Linked DNA regions of Homo sapiens: region 2 is linked to region 1. The links come from fine-mapping of genetic effects on gene expression. Tissue or cell type: whole blood. Region 1 holds a variant in brackets; the other region holds the start of a gene. All regions are shown on one strand. Distances are from middle to middle.

Region 1 (2,681 bases):
TCTCTCTCCTGCACTCAACCCCTCTCCCACTCCACTGCCTCTCAGTGTGCCAAAACACGAAGATGTGTCCTGATTTTCAAAATCTCTCCCCTGAAGTTCCCACCTGATATGTAGTTGGAGATGGGCAAATACAGCGTCCTTGAAGCATCATTTTATTCATAGTGCCTGGAATGTAGTAGGATCTCGACAATTGTTGTTTCAATAAAGGAATGACCAAATATATTAATACTGTAAAAAGTAAAGTAGAGGTTCCTCTTCAAAGAGACTTTTCTCCCCATCTAATTAAGAATAAGTCGTAACTTCTCTTAGAAGCAAAATTTATTCAAAGACCGGTGCTGATATTCTGAAATATCTGCTAGCTGTAATAAAGAAATTAATGTACTTTATGTTCTTAACTCCCACAATTTAGCCTAAATACTTGCCCTGGCATGCTTATACTGATCCAAACAAGCATGAGGTCATAGCCTGTTCCTCTTCCTTATTTGAAGGTGTTTTTACCTTTCTCAGCGTTCCACAAGTGAGTTCCCCCTTCCTTTGTTCTCCTCTGCCTCTGCCTCTTTTAAAAAGTTCTAAGTTGCTAGCCAATCAGGACAAATACAGAATGTGAGGTCCCGTTCCAGCCAGTGGAAACTGGACACAGCAGTAGGGTGGACACATCAAGTTATAAATGACCCTTTCTCCTTTGTTCAGTGTACTCTCGTGGTAAAACTGCTGGCGAGTGTACCCTTTCTGCAGAAAGTAAAAATGGCCTTTGTTGCAGGAAGTCAGGGACCCCGAATGGAGGGACCGGCTGGAGCTGCAGCAGAGGAACATAAATTGCAAATATTTCATTTTAATATGGACATTTATCGGTTCCCAAATTAATACTTTTATAATTTCTTATGCCTGCCTTACTTTAATCTCTTAATCCTGTTATCTTCTTAAGCTGAGGATATAGGTCACCTCAGGACCACTGTGATAATTGTGTTAACTGTACAAATTGATTGTAAAACATGTGTGTTTGAACAATATGAAATCAGTGCACCTTGAAAAAGAACAGAATAACAGCGATATTTAGGGAACAAGAGAAGACAACCATAAGGTCTGACTGTCCGCAGGGTCAGGCAAAATAGAGCCATATTTTTCTTCTTGCAGAGAGCCTATAAATGGACATGCAAGTAGGGAAGATATTGCTAAATTCTTTTCCTAGCAAGGAATATTAATATTAATACTCTGGGAAAGGAAAGCATTCCTGGGGGGAGGTCTATAAATGGTCGCTTTGGGAATGAATGTCTGTCCTATGCAGTTGAGATAAGGACTGAAATACACCCTGGTCTCCTGCAGTACCCTCAGGCTTACTAGGGTGGGGAAAAACCTGGCCCTGGCAAATTTGTGGTCAGACTGGTTCTCTGCTCTTGAACCCTGTGTTCTGTTGTTTAAGATGTTTATCAAGACAATACATGCACCGCTGAACATAGACCCTTATCAGGAGTTCTATTTTGCCCTTGTCCTGTTTCCTCAGAAGCATGTGATCTTTGTTCTGCTTTTTGCCCTTTAAAGCATGTGATCTTCGTACCTACCCCCTGTTCGTACACCCC[C/T]TCCCCTTTTGCAATCCTTAATAAAAACTTGCTGGTTTTGAGGCTCGGGCGGGCATTACGGTCCCACTGATATGTGATGTCACCTCCAGCAGCCCAGCTGTAAAATTCCTCTCTTTGTACTCTTTCTCTTTATTTCTCAGCCAGCCGACACTTATGGAAAGTAGAAAGAACCTACATTGAAATACTGGGGGCAGGTTCCCCCAATATCTGGTGCACCAACATGGTTTTCTTTTTCCTAAGTGCATGTGGGAACCTGATTCCCTTTGGTAGGTGTGGAGAAACGATCATCAGTCCAGTCCTCAGAAACGCTTGTTCGGCTCCCTGATGATTGGTGAATTTTCTATGTATTGTCTCGGGTAACTATGGGTCACATGGAGTCTAAATATTATGCTTATCTCTGCTATATTAAACTCCTGTTAAAACAGGGTGGAGTTTGGGTGCCCATGGAAAATATGGTCACCCTATTCAGGGTGTTGGAAGAACACTGTCCTTGGTTTCCTGAAAAGGGAAAATTAGATGTGGAACTATGGGATCGCGTTGGTGCAAAATTCCAGGAACTGATCCCATCAGGAAATTATGTTCCCTTCACTGTTTGGGGTGATTGGGCCTTGGTATGTGCCATCCTAACGACATACCAATCCCGTGACCCCCTGCAGTTACCACAGTTTTCTGAATCTGGCGACCTTCTACCTCTTCCACAGCTTTCCTCTCCCACTCGGGCTTCATTATCTGCTCAGCCTCTCCCTTCGCCTACTCCTCCCCCACCTAACGATATTGAGGATTCAATATCTAACTCCGGTGACTTTGGCTTAATGTCACCCCCGATGGTCTTATTTCTTTTCATGAAGACCTGATACTTGTAGCTCCCATGGCCCTGACTCGGACAGCTCTGCACCATATCTATGCTAACTCTTCCCTTTTCAAATCTTTGCAGGCTTTGCCTCCAGAGCCATCTAATGGCTCCAGACCAAACTACAATTTACCTGTAATTCTGCAGGCCCTCCCCCACCGCAGCCCCTCACCCTCCTGTCATTTCGGTCCCTCAACCAGTCACTTTGCCATTCACTCAACCTGCTTCTCTGTACCCTTCTTCACACATGGACG
Region 2 (2,681 bases), 38 kb after region 1:
AACCTCCTTAATACCCCACCTGACAAGAGCAAAAGATCTAAAGAAATGACTTGGTCCCAATACCTCAAATTCCCAGGCCCCAAAAGCATAACCATTGAGCCTCTGAGCCCTATTTGGTTAAGCATTAAGACGGGTTTGGGCTATGTTAAAAAGAGAACCCCCAGTTCCAGATAAAGGATGTGTCTCTATTCACCCAGATTGGGGCAAACGTCCCACCCGGCCTTGGCGCGACGCCACCACCCTCTGGGCGTAAGAAGACCAGGGCAGGTGGAGGGCCAGCTTGGCTGCACGGGCACGCGGAGCGGCATTACCTTCCCCGCACGTGTACCGTTTCTCCTCATAAGAGGTATCCGTGAACTCCAGGAGCAGGCGGATGGCGTGCGCCAGCTGGGGAAGACAGCGGTTCAGCGACTGCGCAGCTCCCACCCATTCCCAACCCCCGCCCGCTAACGTTCCCCGGCCCGGGGCTGCCGAGTCCCTGCGTCCTGCCGGGGCGGTGGTTAAGCGGCCCCTAGGCCCGGCTCCGGCGTGGTCTCCTCCGCCCCTCCCCACAGGGCCCGCGATCCCAGAGGCTGGGCAGGGGTCGACATCCGTGGCTCGGCAGCTCGAAAAGGCTCCCGCGTAGAGCTGCTCCTGCTGGAGATCGCGGACCCAGAGACCCGCCCTCTCCGCGTCAGTCTCTTTGACCGAGCGGCTCTACCGTTGAGACGGCACTCACCCCACGAATATCCCAGTACCCGAGAACCATAGACGACTCGCACGACATGGTGACGGGCTTCCGAGCCTTCGAGGACTAGGGAAACTGTGAGCGGGAGGGGCTTTATACCCGACATAAGGGGGCGGGGCCCACGCGCGGGCGCCCTGACTCCGCCTCCGCCCCGTTCTCCGTCCCTTGCCTCCGCGGCTCCACAGGGCCGTGCGCAGGCGCGACTAATGCCGGCGTTGGGGTTCAGGGCCTGGCGACCCCGAGGCGGGACCCGGGCAGGAGTGCTGCAGGAGAGCAAAGGACCCGAGGTTGAGGCTCCTCCCTTCCCCGCGGGTGGGAGCCAGACTTCATTCATTAATGGTGCCAGTGAAGACGCGAAAAGCACCACTAGCCAGGCAGTGGGGACCCTAGTTACCCAGGGAGAGCGAGATTCGCGCCGTTTTTACCGAGCCAGCCGGGGCTGGATGAAGGATAGGAAGACTGGGGCAAGGCCGGAGAGTCAGACCAGCCTCTGACCACACAGAGCAGAAGATTCCCCACAGACCAAGCTCCCCTCTCTGTCAGTCAAGGACCTCTGCAACCTGACCCCAACGTGCTTTTCCAGTCCTGTCTCTCCCTCAGCCCGTCACAACTTCATAAGCCAGCCCAACCCAACAATACTTGCTGTTCCTTCTACACACACTTGCATTTCCCACCTTGGAGTGTTTGCTCTGTGATCCTCCTACCTGCATCCTAATTTCCACAGCCTATCCTTCCTCAGCAGCCTTGCTGAAATGTCTGCCTATTCCTTGAAGCCTTCTCAGAACCAACCTCTATCCTGGCCAGAAGAGGTCTCTTATCTTGAATGTTTCCTACCTTTGTTTTATGGGCTTAAGTAATTTATGGATTCCTTATTATAATTTCCTCCTCCAATCCCTCCCACTTCCTAATGCTCACGCATTTAGGGAAATTAATCTTGCCTCTTTGTGTAGGATGGACTGGAGGAGGAAAGGTACTACCATTTTTCATTCACTCATTCATCTGTCCAACAATGTTTAACATGCCTGTTATGGACAGGCACTGTTTTAGGTGCTGGGGATACAGAACTGAACTCAACAGACAAAATCCCTGCCCTCAGGAAGTTTACATTCTAATGGGGAAGAAATAAACTAATATATAGTAAATAGCTAGTAAGTCAGGTGGTGATACACATCCTATGGAGAGAAATAAAATCGAGAAGAGAGATAGGGGGTCTCAGGGTGGGAACTGGGGGAGTCCCAGTAGGAAGGGGATTTATGTTTTTAAAGGTTATGTTCATAGAAGGCCTCATGGAGAAGTTAATCTTTAAACAAAGACCTGAAGGAGGTGAGAGATCAAGCCACTCTGCTGTGGGGGCCACCATGGGCTGATATAAATATAAAACAGAATAATTGCTGTTCCTTTTACAAGCATGTTTGCTCTGCTCCTGCCTGCACCCTAATGTCCATGGCCTAGCCTTCCTCAAGTAGCCGTGCTCAAATGCTCACTTCTTCCTTGAAGCCTTCTCAGAATCACCCTCTATCCTGGCCAGAAGAGTTCTCTCCCTCTCTTATCTCGAATCACTTCCTACCTGCAGGAGGCAGAGAGAACTCCAGGAAAAGGGAAACAGCAAGTACAGGAGTGATCACTCTGTGTTTGAAACCAGAGACTAGATGAGATCACCATGGGAGCACGAGTAGCAGAGATGAGGTCTAAGGGTTTGAGGTGCTCTGGCATATCAACATGTAAAGGTTAGGGAAAAATGAGAGCAAACCAGCAAAGGAGTCTGAAAAGGAGTGGCCAGGGAGGTAGGAGGAAAACAAAAGGTCCCAGAAGCCATGTGAAGATGTTTAAAGGGAGAAGTGATCAACTATGTCAAGTGTGGCTGATCAAGTAAGATGAAGATGGAGAATCAATGGTTGAATTTAGGAAAGTAGGGGTTTTGACCTTGACAGAGCAAGAGACCTGCCCGAGGCCC

Evidence for each region. PIP is the estimated chance that this variant, and not a neighbour inherited with it, causes the effect.
Region 2: GSTM3 starts here. The variant in region 1 is fine-mapped to the expression of GSTM3 in whole blood (INTERVAL, PIP above 0.99).

The regions. Positions count from the first base shown.
Region 1 is chr1:109,701,863-109,704,543 of GRCh38, forward strand. No RefSeq gene overlaps it. Among named protein-coding and RNA genes, the nearest start is that of GSTM5, 9.0 kb to the right of the region's middle. The variant C/T (reference allele first, on the strand shown) is at 1,578.
Region 2 is chr1:109,739,522-109,742,202 of GRCh38, forward strand. It overlaps GSTM3 (glutathione S-transferase mu 3), which reads right to left and starts at 1,517. Exons shown (of 9, transcript NM_000849.5): 1 at 1,432-1,517; 2 at 719-990; 3 at 312-387. The coding sequence starts at 766. RefSeq lists a silencer at 727-956.